Linked DNA regions of Homo sapiens: region 2 is linked to region 1. The links come from fine-mapping of genetic effects on gene expression. A gene starts in region 1. The other region holds a variant in brackets. All regions are shown on one strand. Distances are from middle to middle. Region 1 holds the start of QDPR (quinoid dihydropteridine reductase). Region 2 overlaps QDPR (quinoid dihydropteridine reductase).

Region 1 (8,339 bases):
AATCTGGAGAATTATTTAAGTATAAAAAAAAAAAAAAACAAAGCTTACCATAAACTATAAAATACAAAATTACCTAAACTTGTAAAAGGAGTAACATACAATATGCATAGAAAAAGACAATAGGCCAAAATGTTAACAGTGAACTAACTCAAAATGATTATATAATTTATCTTTGTATCATTTTTCACTTTTTCCAAATTTTCCTCAATGAACACAAATGGCTTTCCTAGTTAGAGAAACAACAGCTTTAAAAAAAAGGAAGAACAGGCCAGGCGCGGTGGCTCATGCCTGTAATCCGAGCACTTTGGGAGGCTAAGGCGGGCGGATCACAAGGTCAGGAGTTCAAGATCAGCCTGGCCAACATGGTGAAACCCCGTCTCTACTGAAAATACAAAAAATTAGCTGGGGGTGGTGGCAGGCACCTGTAATCCCAGCTACTCAGGAGGCTGAGGCAGGAGAATTGCTTCAACCCAGGAGGCAAAGGTTGCAGTGAACGGAGATCATGCCACTGCACTCCAGCCTGGGCGACAGAGCAAGACTCCGTCTCGGGGAAAAAAAGAAATAAAAGGAAGAACATACAGCCAAAGGAAGAACATACAGCCAGTGGTCACCTCTCCCCAGGGTTCCCCTCACAATGTTTGGGGGCCTTTTTGAAACTACCTGGTCAGCCTGCTCAGTGAACGAGTCTGTCATTTTAACAATGATGCTAGCGCTGGCCTCTTCATTCTCCACCACATCAACGCTGGCAACCCACTGGAAGGAGAAAACAGCTTTGGTTAAGAGGCAGTGAGTTGTTATTCCATGAAAGAGTCACACATAGAAATGAGGGGAGTTGGCCAGGTGTAGTGGTTCACGTCTGTAATGCCAGCACTTTGGGAGCCAATGTGGGAGGATCTCTTGAGGCCAAGAGTTTGAGACCAGCCTGGGCAACATAGCAAGACCCAGTCCCTACAAAAAAATTTTAAAATTAGTCAGGTGTGGTGGCACATGCCTGTAGCCCCAGCTACCCGGGAGGTTGAGGCGAGAGGATCACTTGAGCTCAGTGAGCTATGATCGCACCACTGTACTCCGGGCTAGGCAACAGAAGGAGGCCTTATCTCCATTTAAATAAAAGAAAAAGAAAAAGAAAGAAAAATAAAGGAGCAGAGTGGAGACAGGTAAGAGGCTTCAATGAAAACACACCCTATATTGGGCTCCATCCCAGGCCCTCCTACCTCCAAACACTCTACTCCGCCTCCACATTCACCTCTAAAACACAAACCCTGCACTTCTAGAGACATCAAGGGCCAGCAAATTTTCTGTAAAGGGCCAGATCACAATTACCTTAGGCTTTGCTGGCCATATGGTATCTGTTGTTACTCAAATCTGCAATTGTAACAGAACACAGCAATAAATAGGGGGAAAAAATAAGTGCAGCTGTGTTCCAATAAATCTTCAGAGCTGAAATGTGAATTTCATTAATTTTCATATACAACAAAATATAATTCTTCATTTGATTTTCTTTTCAACCACCTGAAAATGTAAAACTATTCTTAACTCTTGGGCTGTACAAAAACAGGTGGCAGACCAGATTCAGCTCACAAAGGATCCCTGTCCTGCAGCAGAGAGGGATGGACTTTAGGATTGGAAATCAGACAGATCAGGTTTGAATCCCAGCTCTGCCAGAGTGGCTTTCTCACTCCGATGCCGGGCAGAGGTTCCCAACAAAAGAGGTTGTTTGTTGATGATTAACAGGGTCAGTGTAAGAATTAAATGAAATGGAAGATGCTAAAGCTCCTGGCACAGGGGATGTTCAGTCCTTACTCAGGGTCTCTTGGTCTGAAGTCCCCAGAGATAATTATCTCTACCTTAAGCTGTAAACACAGCATCTATTCATCAACATTTGTTATATTATTAATTAACTTGTTATCCCATGGGGGATACTGAAACAATGAAAAGTCTCCATCATCCTAGCCCTCCCTAAGATGGCAGGAAGAAGCTCGGAGGGGAAAGACCAAGAGCCAGAGGTAAATCAGCTCTCCAGATTCTGCCAAGACCAAGGTAAACCAAAGTGCCACCACCAGGAGAAAGCACAGCCTTCACCCTCTAACACATGACGCTAACAGGATCTACTGCCTTAAAGATATTGGGGGCATTAAGAGTCTATGGGAACTCTGGTACTGGGAACACAGTGCCTGGCCCTTGGCAGAAGTGCTGCCTCTGTCACCACCATGCATCTCTGAAGACCTGGGAAAGCGCCCTCATCAGTGTCCCCAAGCACTGAGCAGATGGGTGGCAGGAAGGGAGTGGTGTGACTGAATTCTTCAGAAGCATATTCCTGTACCAGATTCTGAGCAACAAGAAAACCTTGGTAAATGTACACTATTTGGGTGATGGTTACACTAAAAGCCCAGACTTCACCACTACACAACATATCCATGTAACTAAACTGTACTTTTGCCCCCTTCATCTATAAAAATTAGATAGTTTTTTTTTAAAGAAAATCCTGAAAGCCTTTTTCTGGTCCCAGGGGAACTCTTGCCCAGGCTGCTGTGCTGCTGCTGCTAACTAAGCTCCCAGAACGCTGCCGCTGGCAGTGTCTCCACCGGGAAATTGCTGAGGCCTGCTGAGCGGCTGAGGTCAAGGGTCTTTGGCCATGTATCAGCTCTGCTCCGACTTGCCGCCTCCTGGAAATTGACACCTGACTATGCAAAGTAGTTGAAATAGTCTTTGCAGAGCAAAGAAGCCGTCAGCGTTTTTCCGTGCTGAGCCTTCAAACTGTCAGATCCAATGGGGCTAAAAGAACAGGGGTGGGTAGTAATAGTAACATTAATAGACAGCATTTAAACAGTTTTTACCAGGCGTCAGGTAATTTATGTGCAACGACACCAATTATCTCATCTAATCGTCCCAACTCTCACTGTCAGAATCTCCGTTGTACAAATGGGGAAACCGAGGTCCTACGGCGTTAGGTAATCAATACGCGGTCTCATGACTAGTAACCGGGACTGGGCTGTCTCATTCTAGAGCCTTCCTTCTACACTCTCTCTCCGTCCTCTCACCCCTGCTCCCGTTCCTCCCCTTTGGAATTCTCTCCCGAGTCACGCCGGACTTTTTGGGTCTGGCGGAGGCCCACGGAGCACCTCCTTGCACAGCAAAGGCCCAGCGCCCTGGGACTGGCGTGCGCACGCACTCGGAAACAGGAATAGACGCGTAGACCTGTGCGCGCACGTGCAAGCAACACGAGTCAGGGGGTGCACAGGGGCCCCCACCTTCCTCTAGACTGCCCCCCGCCGGGTTCCACACGAAAGCCCCCGGCCACCCCCGCGGAGACCCAGCAGCCCCAGCCCGCAGCATTACCCAGTTGCGGGCCCGAAAAGCCTGCACGCATCGAGAACCCAGAGCGCCCCTGCCGCCGTACACCAGCACCCGGCGCGCCTCGCCTGCAGCCGCCGCCGCCGCCATCCTGCTCCTGCCAGCCCGGCTCCCGCAGCTCCGAATGCCTCGAGCCGGAGCGCCGCGCCCCGCCCCGGCCGGCCAACCCCGCCAAGAGGGAACGCGCGGCGGCCGCGCCCCGCTCCGCGCCCGCTGCTGCCGCCTAGCGCGCTGCCACGCTCGGGGCGCCCCGCCACCCGGAGGGACTGTAACTTCGGCCAGGCCCTGCCCCTGGGACGGGGACATCGGCGAAGCCCCTCCTCCCACCCGCCAGCAAGTGCTGGGCCTCGGGGCGTGCAGCGAGCCGGGCTAAGGGCGAGGAGGGTGGAGAGCGGGTGTTTTACGAGCATTAATTTGTGAAGTGTAAGCATGTAAAATATAGTATAGTACAATTTTCGACCACTGTTTTGGCAATTTTTTATTTTTAATTGTGCATCAAAATAGAGATTTAAGTATTCCCACCTGCCAAAAAAACAGAAGAGGTCGCTCCGCTCAAGGAGCTGAAAGTCCACCGCCGAGACGAGACAAACCACACTAGGTCTTATTTCTTCTATCTAACCGTAAATTTATACCCATTAATCCAAATGGCCCTTTTACTATATGCCACCCATCGCCAGACACAGATCCTGGCATTTTCTCCCTTGTATATTAGTTATTTCTGCCCATGGCCTGTATCTTTAACACAGAGCCTCTCATCTACAGCACTACTGACATTTTGGGCCAGATAATTATTTGTGACAGGTGCTGCCCTGGGTACTGTAGGATATTTACAGCATCCCTGGCCTGCATATACTAGAAATCAATAGCAAACCCCTACCCCTCACTCATAAGAATCAAAAATATCTCCAGATTTAACAGTTGTCTCCTAGGGGCAAATTCATCACTGATAGAGAACCAGAGCTCTAACACTCTCATAACCTTCTTGATAGCAGAACCCTGTATTACATACATCTTTGTGTCACTTCCCATCCACATATAACCTTGTACACAGCAGACACAGATGTTTGTTCAGTAAACTTGTGCCAGGTAAAGCATGCAGAAATATGTCACTAGAGAAGAGGATGCAGCCAGCAGCACATTTTGTTGTCAGAAGCTTCATTATCAGAAATAGAACTGCTAGGAGGCTGGATGGAGAGGAGAGCACCATCTATTTAGTGCTCCTTATATCCAAGGCACTGCGCTAAGTGATCTGCCTGTGCTATTTCACTTTACTCCACACGATAATCCTATGCAGATTAGAAAGCTGAGGCATGAGAGTCACAGACACTTGTCTGGAAGAGTGGGAATTTGAACACAGGTCTTCAATAGCTAGAGTTCCACTTAACCACACCTTTGTTCAGCAAGACAAAGGCTTGTTGGGAATCAAGTGTTTCCCTTAGAGTTTTTCTGAAAACAATTGCTTAACCCTCAAAACACCAAAAGTTGACACAGGTCCCTCACTGACGGCAGAAATATGACTCAATGATATTTACGCAAGTCCTGACTTGTCAAAGCATGCTTAATGTTAAAATAAGAACGTGAACTAACATTATTGATCACTTAATGTGCCAAGCAGTCTTCTGAGCCTTTTATATGTATTCTGTTATTTTTTACCAGAAAAACATTTGCTGTTTCAAAGTCACTGGGATGAAGATGAGCTGTTGTAATTCAAAGACCTGAATTTCAGCCCCAGCACTGACATCCAGTTTTTCATGAGAGAAATGGCTGAAATCGTGCATCTCCTGTTTACCTTAAAGGGTTGCTGGAGCATCAGAGGTGAGCAAGCATATGGTCAAAGCATTTTGCATTTTGTACATGGTAAAGTGCCACTCATCTGTATATATAGTAAGAGACAGGATCTCACTCTGTTACTCAGAGTGGCATGATCATAGCTCACTACAGCCTTGAGCTCCTGGGCTGGAGCAGTCTTCCAGCCTCAGCCTCCAGTAGCTGGGACTACAAATACACGCCATCAGGCCCAACTATTTTTTTTTTTTATTTTTTGTAGAGATAAGGTCTCACTACATTGCCCAGGCTCAGAAATTCTCATTTTTATTTTCATTGTGGAGTGGCCACTGAAGTGAGCCCCAGTTGCGAGGAAGGAAACTGACATTTCCATTAATGTGTCCCTCTGCTTCCTTGACACTCTCCAAGTGAGATTCCTGGGACCCCTATTGGTTAACAGTGCAACTTCCTGAACCCCCCTTCAGGCTTCTGTGACCAACTAAGAAATTTTACTGCTCCACTTTTGCCCAACTTTGCTCCCCAGAGATATGGATAGAGTGACTGTTGCCAGTCTCACATGATGTTAAGTTGATATTCAGGAATAAGGTAAAAGTCAAAATGTCAAAGTCCACAGTATAAGATAGAAAGGAAAGAATATTTCATTCCTAGTATCTACAGATTAAAAGGAAAGCCTAGATCTTCCACTATTAGAAGAGATGAATACCCCAGCAGTGTGGCTACTATTTGCTAATACACTAGAAAAACACTTTTCTCTCCCATTTCAGATAACGTAGAAGGAGGGACGGGTGAGAGCAATGTTAAGTGTTGGATTCCAGGCTACCCCAACAGCCACAAAGTAATTCTAGTCACAGTTTACCCCCAGCAGATTCACACAGTGAGAAATTCATAAGGCCCTATTTACACATTTCAATATTAAAGCCCCAAGAACCGGGGTCATTTGATGGTATTAATAACAGTCCTAAAGATTCTGACAGCAGTGACATTTCAGAGAAAGAAATGCCAGGGCACCCATGCATCAGCGAGATCGACATTTGATACTGCGCATTGTTGGCAATATTCAAGTGCTAATCATTCTGTTTTTGTTTTCCTTCTAACACATGCATTTTTTGAGATTGGTTTGCGTCTCTTAATCTTCAGAGCTACCTGATTTTGCTTATTACTAACTCCTTTATCATTACGAGGTCCACACCAGGGCTATTTAAATACTTGAAACGAGGAACAGTTAAACAGTCTGCTGAAACATTAGTCTAGGAGGAGATATAAGGTTACTTCCTTCAGTAACACACTCCGCTACATAGTCAGGTGAAGATTGTCTCTGTAGAGGCTTCTGGATGTGGTTGTAGGAAGCATGGACTGTGCAAGCTTGCGCTGAAGGAGGACGAGAGGATGGACCTACAACCTTGAAACAGAGTGTTTGGAAGAGCTGACCTTGGAGCAGAGCATTGCCGAGTATCTGAAAGATGTCAATGACCCTCGCTGCTGCTCGGAGACCTTGGGGATGACCTGCACCCACTAGCATGCCTGGATGGTTCAAAAAGGCGTGGTATGGGCTGGCGTCTTTACTCAGCTTCTCCTCCTTCATCCTGATCATCGTTGCCCTGGTAGTGCCCCACTGGCTGAGTGGGAAAATCCTTTGTCAGACTGGAGTGGATCTGGTCAACGCCACAGACAGAGAGCTGGTCAAGTTCATTGGGGACATTTACTACGGGCTCTTCCGAGGGTGTAAAGTGCGGCAGTGTGGGCTTGGGGGCCGCCAATCCCAATTCACGAGTGAGTATATTGGGAGCATGAAAGCTGATTCTAGGCACTCATTTTTGTTAATGTGTAAGAGTGCTTATGTCTCATTGTGGAATTTGGCTGCTGCCTCAACGTCAGGCATAATGTCAAAGTCCACAGTGAGCCAAGGGTTCTGGATCCACATCAAAAAGATCTTTCCTTCCTTCCTTGCTTCCTTTTCTTTTTCTGTAGAGATGTATAGAAACATTAGAAATAAGGATTTGTGCATTTTTGCAGTTTACCTCTATTAATTATGACTATTAAAATATTGAGAGTTTACACGTGTCAGACATTGTAAGCACCTCACGCCACTTGTCTCCTTAAAGCCTTACAACAAAGTTATACAGAAGGAATTGTTAATGTTCCCATTTTCCAGAGGAGTACACTGAGGCTTGGAGAGGTTACATAACTTACCTGAGGTCACCCAGCCAGGAAACAGTAGAGCCGGACTCCAGACCCATGCCACATGACCACAACAAGTGGGTGGAGGCTGCCTGCAGAACTGAACCTTTGGGAAGCATGATGACCCTTTCCACATCTACTTTTGTAAAAGCTTCATAGTCTGAGAAAATGCAAAGGGGCACTGTGCTTGGGTTCTGGAATCAGACTACCCTGGCTGAAACCCCTACTGGAAAGTTTACTGGTGGGGAGACCTCAAGCAAGGCACTTGCCTGTTCTCTGTGAACGTGAGCGGGCACCGACTTTGGCTGGCATTCAGTGTAGCATCAGAGCTGCCCAGGATGTAAGCAGAGCAGTCTGCACAAACAGGAATCCAAGCTGGACTTAGGAACGGGCTTCTGGAAAGGAAAAAACAAAACAGGCAATATTCTGCAAGCCTTTTGAATCGATGAGATCACTGGTGAAAAGTGTCTGCACAAAACCGTAATTAATCAATACCATGCCAATGTAGGGTGATACAGAATTGTATTCATTCCTTGATTTCTATATTTCAGTATTGTAGTAGTTTATAGAAATCTGGCCAAGGTAAATGTCGTATTAAATTTATAAGGACAAAAAGCTGGAACCGTTGACAAATATAATACAAATTGTCATCATTTAAACACACAAAAATTTACATTTGTTATGTATATTCAAGATCAATATGTCTGGGCATATTTATATTTACCTAGCAATTAGATTAGACCCTGGATATTGAACAAATAGCTCCATCAAAATTATAACATAAAACTTGAAAACACACACACATAAACAAATAAAAAAAAGAAATGCTAAAAGCTAACCATGACAACTACATGGACTACTCGATTCTGAACTAGATGCTTTGCTATAAAGGATGTCTTCGGGACTTTAGGGGTCAAGAAAACTTCCCCTTTGCACTCTGAAGGTTCTCTAAACAATCTACTGACAAAAGGCAGATTAATAGGGAAAATGGCTTACACATTTATTAGCATGCATAGGGGAAA
Region 2 (8,339 bases), 27 kb before region 1:
TGGCAGGGTGCTTCCTGCTTCCCCAGTGGCTGTAGACCAACACAGGCCCAGGGAACCCAACAAACTCTGCTGTCCAGTGCCATAACTTCTCCATGTCCACCTCTCTATGTCCTACTCTATGTCCACCGCCATACCTTCTCCAATGAAGCTCAGGTCCCAGCCTTGGGGAGGGACTTGTCTTCCAAATTTGTTCCTCAAGTGCTGTCCCTCGGCACAAGAATATTCTTCAGAGTTCTCATTAGCCTTTTAGAATTAATCTTTGCTACTCGATAATTCTTTATATTACACTGACCTCATTCACAATACTGCATGGCTTCTGTCTTCTGGACCCTGGCCAACACATTCCCTTAGTGATCTCACCTAGTCTCATAACTTTAACTGCTTAGGACCCCCAGATCTCTCAGGACCCCTAGATCTCTCTCTCTCTCAAACACCAGACTTAATACAACTGCCCACTTAACATCTCCACTGGGGTATTAATAGAGTAAACCTCTATGTCCAAAACAACACTCCAGATACTCCCAATACTTGCTCTATCCACAGCCTTCTCTATCACACTTGCTAACTTAATCCATTTGCTCACGTGAAAAACTTTGGGAGACATCACTGACTCTTTTCTCTCTTACCGTCACATTAAATCCACCAGGAAATCCTCTTGAATCTGTCTTCAAAATATCCACCATTTCCCAATTCTCCTCTCACGACCTCCACTGCTACCACCCTAACCACTGTCATTTCTTGCCTGGATTCTTGCAAAAACCTCAGTACTATCCTCAACACAACAGCCAGAGCAATCTTTTAAAATATATCATGCCACTCTTTCGCTCAAAATCCTTGCGGTAGTTCCCAAAATCCAAAACCAAATCCTTAAAATGCCCAACACCCCCTTACATTTGCTATTCCCAAACTGTGCACCAAGGCACTCCAAGGCAGCATTCACAGGGACTCTACAGGGTACTTTCCATGTTCTAGGTCATAGAGCAATATCAGTCATATTACTACTATAAAATTGTTAGAACCCAACCACTTGTAAATCCAAATCATTAGTTAGTTTCTTTGATGTAGGGGCATTGTAAAAAATTACTGAGACACTAAGGGCACTGTGGGCCTAGAAAATTGGGGGACCCCTACCCTACACAATCATCTGTCTGATCTTATCTCCTGAAACTGCCCCTCTGTTTGCTCCATTCTCTGCCCCAGCCAACCCAGCCTCCCTGTGTTCCTCACCCCACCTGGTACACTACTGCCTCAGGCTCTTTGCAATGACTGGTTCCTCTGTCTTAAAATGTCCTTACCTCAGATGCCCTTGGCTGCCTTCTACACTTTCTTTCAGATGTGTTCAAACGTCACTTCCTCACGAGATATTCCATCACTGCCTGTATTAGTGTGGGCTGCCATAACAAAACACCACAGAGTGGGTGGCTTAACATCACACATTTATTTTCTCTGTTCTGGAGGCTGAAAGTCCAAGACTGAGGCTCCAGTCAATTCCATCTCTTGTGAGGGCTCTCTTCTCAGCTTGTGGACGGCAGCCTCCTTGCTGTGTCCTCACACAGACTTTCCTCAGTGCATGCGTGTGGGAAGAAAGTGAGAGGGAGAACTCTGGTGTCTGTCCTCATAAGAACACTAATCCTGTTGAATCAGTGCCCATCCTCACGAACCCATTTCATCTTAGTTACTTCCTTAGAGGCCCCATCTCCAAATACAGCCACATTAGAGTGAGGTCTTGAACATACAAATTTGGGGGAGACACCCACATTCAGTTCATAACACTACCATTTCTGAAATTGCAATCCCAATCTCCCCAACACTCCTTCACCCCCTTACCTTGCTCTCTTCCCCCCACAGTTCACCTTTCTCGTACTCTCCAATGAATTCATATTATGAATTCTATTGTTTATTATCTGTCACCCTCTCCCCCATCTAGAATAAAACTCAATGATTAAGGGTAGGAGTCTTTGTCTACTTGTTCTTTATGTGTCCCAGGCATCTAGGTTAGTGCCTTGTACACAGTTGGTACTCAAGATTAGCTGTTGAATGAATGAAGGAGAAAAAACATCTCCTTCCTGGCCCCTTTTCCCTTTTCATTCTCTTTGCACATCACCAGGGAAGGAAAAGAAACACACCTCAATAATCAATTAGTTTGAGGAGAGCTGGTAGTCTTCATTCCATTTAGAAACCAGATCTGGTATTCAATAATTAAAAATAATTAATAATTAATAAGCAGCCCAAATTTCCACCAACGGATGAGTAGGTAAACACCAGATTAAAAGACTTCCAAGCAGTCCATGATTCTAGCATACTCATCTATGACTGCTGGATATGAGATGTGATTTGATTAAAGAGACAGGCCAGGCACGGTGACTCACGCCTGTGAATCCCAGCACTTTGGGAGGCCGAGGCAGGCGGATCACGAGGTCAAGAGATTGAGACCATCCTGGCCAAAGTGGTGAAACCCCGTCTCTACTAAAAATATAAAAATTAGCTGGGTGTAGTGGTGCACGCCTGTAGTCCCAGCTACTCGGGAGGCTGAGGCAGAAGAATCGCTTGAACCAGGCAGGCGGAGGTTGCAGTGAGCCGACGTCATGCCACCGCACTCCAGCCTGGGTGACAGAGCGAGACTCTGTCTCAAAATAAAAAGGCAACACGATAAATGAAGTGCATTTATTAGGATAATCAACAGTTACCAGGTCCGGTTCTAAACGGAATGAAAACTACCAGCTCTCCTGAAACTAACTGTACCCTCGTTAAGTCTCTTAGTGTGTGGAACTGTTTCTTCATCTGAAAATTGAAAACAACAAGACATGCAAGGTACAGCATGAGGTAATGTGCTCAGGGTGCTTTCAACAGCTAGACTTGTATACTAGTTCCAGCTGCGCAGCTCTCTAGCTAGGTGACTTTGAACAAGCAGTCCAACCTTCTGAGCTCCCATTTTCTTTCCTGTAATAGTTGGATAAAATCACCTCGTAGTGGCAAGAATCAAGAGACTTCTCAAAAGTTAAACATAGAGGCCAGGCGCAGTGGCTCACAGCTGTAATTCTAAGCACTTTGGGAGGCCGAGGCAGGTGGATCACTTGAGGTCTGGAGTTTGAAACCTGCCTGGCCAACATGGTGAAACTCTGTCTCTTCCATCTCTACTAAAAATACAAAAAAAAAAAAAAAAAATAGCCAGGTGTGGTGGTGGACACCTGTAGTCCTAGCTACTCGGGAGGCTGAGGCAGGAGAATCACATGAACCTGGGAGGTAGAGGTTACAGTGTGCTGAGATCGCACCACTGCACTCCAGCCTGGGCAACAGAGCAAGACTCCATCTCAAAAAAAAAAAAAAGATAAACACAAAAATTACCATATGGTCGAACAATCCTGCTCCTAGGTATATATCCAAAATCATTGAAAACAGATACACAAACACTTATACATGAATGTTCACAGCGGCAATGCTCACAACAGCCAAAAGGTGGAAACAGCCCAAATGTCTATCAACAGATCAGTAAACAAAATTGCAGTGGATACATATAATGGAATATTATGCCACAAAAAGAAAGAAAGTACTGATACATGATGCAATGGGGAAGAACATGGAAAACATAAAGCTAGGTAGAAGCAGCCAGATACAAAAGGTCACATACTGATTCCATTTATACAAAATACCCAGAACAGGCCAGGTGCAATGGCTCACGCCTGTAATACCAGCACTTTGGGAAGACAAGGCAGGAGGACTGCTTGAGTCCAGGAGTTTGAGACCAGCCCGGGCAACATAGCAAGACCTGTCTCTACAAAAAACTTTAAAAAATATCTGGGTGTGGCAGCACGTGCCTGTAGTCTCAGCTCCTCGAGAGGCCAAGGTGGGAAGATTGCTTGAGCCCAGGAAATCGAGGCTGCAGTGAGCCATGTTCATGCCACTGTACTTCAGCCTGGGTAAGAGCAAGACTGTCTCAAAAAAATAGTAATACCCAGAATTAATTCACAGAAACAAAATGAAGATTGGTGGTTGCAGGGGTTAGGGAGCAGGAATGGGGAGGAACTGCTTAAAGAGCTCTGGTTTTTCTTTTGGGGTGATGGAAATGTTTGGGAACTAGACAGAGGTGGTGATTATGCACTACTGTAAATGTGCTAAATGCCACTGAACTGCTCACCTACTTAACTTTTAATACTTAAAATTAGCCTTAAAATGGCTAATTTTGGCCGGGTGCAGTGGTTCACACCTGTAATCCCAGCACTTTGGGAGGCCGAGGTGGGCAGATCACAAGGTCAGGAGATCAAGACCATCCTGGCTAACACGGTGAAACCCCGTCTCTACTAAAAATACAAAAAAACTTAGCCGGGTGTGGTGGTGGGCGCCTGTAGTCCCAGCTACTCGGGAGGCTGAGGCAGGAGAATGGTGTGAACCCAGGAGGCGGAGCTTGCAGTGAACCGAGATGGCGCCACTGCACTCCAGCCTGGGCGACAGGGTAAGACTCTGTCTCAAAAAAAAAA[A/T]AAAAAAATTATGTGAATTTCACCTCACTAAAAAAAGAAAGAAAATACGTGGTAAAGGCCTTTAAAAACAGCAACTGTCTGGTGACTAGAGATCTGGGCTTAGCTCTGCCAGTTACTGGCAACAAGGTAATGTCTCTCTGGGCCTCAGTTTCCTCATCTGTAAAATGATCGGGTTGGATTAAACCACTACTAGTTCTCAACCAGGACAGCCTACATTGGCCATATGTGGAGAGCTGCTTCTAAATGCACAGGGCCATCCCATCACCCCCAGATTTTGACATGTCCAAGGCAGAATCAGGCCTGTGTTCTTGTGTTGAAATATTTATTTCAGGATTTAAATCCACCCCCTTCTGAGAACATCAGATTAAAAGACCTCCAGCAATCCATGATTCTAGTATACTCATCTCTGACTGCTGTATATAAGATGTGATTTGATTAAAGAAGACAGACAACAAGTGCATTTATTAGGAACAACATTCTGAATACTCACGAGTAGTTATCTTGCACACTTAACCCTAGGCCAGAGGACACGGGGCAACCACACAGGAAAAGGATACCAGGACAGAGTCCATGTAGTTTTGCTTATACCACAAAAGGAGTTAAGGCAGTTTAATTCAAGGATGCGAAAACTACGTCTATGACATAAACATGACATTCAAAAATAACTCAGCCTTTAAAATGTCCCCAATACCAACAAATCAACAAAGTAGTCAAGATGACAGCCACTGTCAAGGACAGATGAACAGTCACAAAAGCGATCCAACATGACACCGCTATAGCAGGTGCTATGCAGAGCCCTCCCTATGCAGTTAACACAGATCAACGGATGCTATTTGCAGGCCACCAGTCTCGCATGTCTTTACTTCACATAAATGTATTACACTGTCCTAGGAGAGCAAATGCATATTATGTGAGAGAAAAATAGGACTCATTATCTCGTACCACAAACAGGGGTTACAGAAAACACAAGGCTGGACAAGGCCACACTGAGACAGGTTAGTGACTTTTCTGGCAGGCCCCTCATAGGCACTGAGATGAGGCCTAAAAATATGCTGGGGTGAGTTCCGTCCTTCCTTCTGTGGTTACCACCTGGATTAGGCTTCCTGAGCTCGGTCGGTTTTTCCCTGTGATCCAGTCATGGAAAGTTCTGGAACAGAAAATAAAAGTTTTTTTTATATTCTCAAAGCAAAAATCTGGGCACATGCTGACCTTCACAGTGACGGCTTGTGGGGTGGGGGGAAGGGGTGGCACAGCAGCGACTGTTTAAAAGCCACTAAGGGCTGGGCGCCATGGCTCACACCTGTGATCCCAGCACTTTGGGAGGCCGAGGCGGGCAGATCGCTTGAGGTCAGGAGTTCGAGACCAGCCTGGCCAATATGATGAAACCCCATCTCTACTAAAAATACAAAAATTGGCCGTGGTAGCACGTGCCTGTAATCCTAGCTACTCAGGAGGCTGAGGAAGTAGAATCACTTGCACCCGGGAAGCAGAGGTAAGCCGAGGTTGCACCATTGCACTCCAGCCTGGGCATCACAATGAGACTCCGTCTCACAAAAAATAATAAATAAATAAATAAATAAAAGCCACTAAAGGTCAGGCATTATGGCTCACCCCTATGATCCCAGCACTTTGAGATGCCAAGGCGGGCGGATCGCTTGAGCCCAGGTGTTTGAGGCCAGCCTGGACACAATGGCAAGATTCCATCTCCAAAAAATAATAAAAAATTAATAAAAGCCAGTAGGCATGATGGACACATACCCAGGCCCCCAGTGAGTTCAGTGGTGTACTCATTCTAATCTCTGAGTGGCAGGATTTGGCATAAGTTTAACTTTCATTTTGGTATTTTTCTACATTGTTGGAATTCTTTTGTGATTTTAAAAGATTCTAATTTGGCCAGGCGTGGTGGCTCACACCTGTAATCTCAGCAATTTGGGAGGCTGAGGCAGGTGGATCACTTGAGCCCAGGAGTTTTTGAGACCAGCCTGGGCAACTGGGTGAAACCCTACCTCTAAAAAAATACAAAAAATAGCTGGGCATGGCACATGCCTGTAGTCCCAGCTACTCAGGAGGCTGTGGTGGGATGATTGCTTGAGCCCCGGAGATCAAGGCTAGGGTAAGCCATGATCGTGACACTGCACTCCAGCCTGGGTGACCCAGTGAGACCCTGTCTCAAAAAAAAAAAAAATTGTTTTTAAAGATTTTAATTAGTTCATTCAAAGAGAGAGACACATGCACAATACTTTGCTATATTACCTTCTCATAAATTTATGAGAGAAACAGATGCAATTCATTTATTTGGCATTTTTTTAATCAAACATTTATAGAGTACCCACAGCTGCACCAAACAATGGAAAAAGAGATAGAAAAAAACAGACTATTACAATAAAATGTTAAATACAGTAACAGGGCCTTTCACAAATCTGAGGAGAGGAGCAACTGACCCCACTTGCAGCAGTCAAAAAGACCCTCTAAGAAGACAGGAATGAAAAAGGGCAAAAGAAATTCACAAGAAACAAGAAGTAGATGATAATTCTTTAACACAAAACATTTACATTTGAGTACATCATCCATTTTGACAATTCACCAGCTGAGACTTCGGACCTTCATTAACTAAAAAGTGCTCAGCATTTCCTTCCTGGGAGACTCCCAGTGCCAATCTGTAACCTTCTGGGCCAGCGCTGATGTGTAAAGGTCCAGTCATTCAGGCCCCTACTCTGGGGTTTGAACAAGCTCATATGAGCACATGGGCTCAAAAAACAAAGCGTTGCTAAAACTCTCTAAAGTACTGTCATGTCATGGCCTCATCTCTGGGGACAGGGTAGGGCTTGGTGAGGGAAGGCTCTGAAAGAGACCAGTGCCGTTTGGTTGTGTAGGGTTTTGTGTGTTGGTTACACATGTTTTTTTGTTGTTTTGTTTTTTTATACTTTAAGATCTAGGCTACATGTGCACAGCGTGCAGGTTTGCTACACAGGTATGCATGTGCCATGTTGGTTTGCTGCGATGCATGTTTTAAATGGTTTTACTTCTTCACCCTCATCTGCAGCGTGGATAGGTGAGTGAGAACGCCATTCTAACCAGGGATGGTAGAGGAAGGATGTGCTCACAGACATCTCAAAGCAAACTTTATGCCAGCTTTTCTGAGAGTTTTCAAATACCACAAATGGGTGGATGTGATCTCTAGAACAAAAGGGGGCCTGTGACAGCCCGTCCTCTGTGGGTCTGTGGCTCAGCACGAGTTCAGACACAAGATCCCAGATGTTCCATCTAGAGTAGGTCTTAGATCAGTATCTCAAGTGTGGTGGGAGTGTCGGCCTTTAAAAAGAAATTCAAACACAAACACAATTCAAAGCTTGATTTCCTCTACAACTTCAATTTTTTTCCTGCAAATCAAGCATGAAGCATGATTCCTGGCATAGACAGAAATAACTGTCAGCACACCAGTTAAGACCATAGGTTCTGCAGCCACACCACTTGTGTCAGATCCCGGCTGTGCTGTGTGACCTTAGGCGAGTGACTTAGCCCCTGCCATCCCTCCAAGTCTCTAAGCCTTAAATAAAAATGACAGCTCCTCCCTCAGAGTTTGCTATGAGCATTAAATAAGAGTTATGAAGTGCTTAGAATGGTGACTGGGACATAAAAAGTGTTCTGTAAGTACACATTTCAAACATAAAACGCAAGTCCCAAATTTCTCCCGATTTAATTTAAATGAGATTGTGACATCAGGCCAGAAGCACACTGCTAACTTCACAAACATCTCTTATAAACAGTCGTCAAAGCAGTTTACACAGAGGCACTACTGGGTCAGGCTGTCACCTTGACCCTCTCGGCACCCCTGCTCCCTGTGGGCAGGGATCCCATCTTTGT

Evidence for each region. PIP is the estimated chance that this variant, and not a neighbour inherited with it, causes the effect. A credible set is the group of variants that fine-mapping cannot tell apart.
Region 2: its variant is the best candidate, but not a certain one, in a credible set for the expression of QDPR in T cells (TOPMed, PIP 0.56).

The regions. Positions count from the first base shown.
Region 1 is chr4:17,508,611-17,516,949 of GRCh38, forward strand. It overlaps QDPR (quinoid dihydropteridine reductase), which reads right to left and starts at 3,480. Exons shown (of 7, transcript NM_000320.3): 1 at 3,340-3,480; 2 at 661-753. The coding sequence starts at 3,444. It overlaps CLRN2 (clarin 2), which reads left to right and starts at 6,555. Exons shown (of 3, transcript NM_001079827.2): 1 at 6,555-6,909. The coding sequence starts at 6,657. RefSeq lists a silencer at 3,109-3,688.
Region 2 is chr4:17,481,615-17,489,953 of GRCh38, forward strand. QDPR (quinoid dihydropteridine reductase) reads right to left here. Exons shown (of 7, transcript NM_000320.3): 7 at 4,781-5,622. The coding sequence ends at 5,517. Among named protein-coding and RNA genes, the nearest start is that of QDPR, 26 kb to the right of the region's middle. The variant A/T (reference allele first, on the strand shown) is at 4,476.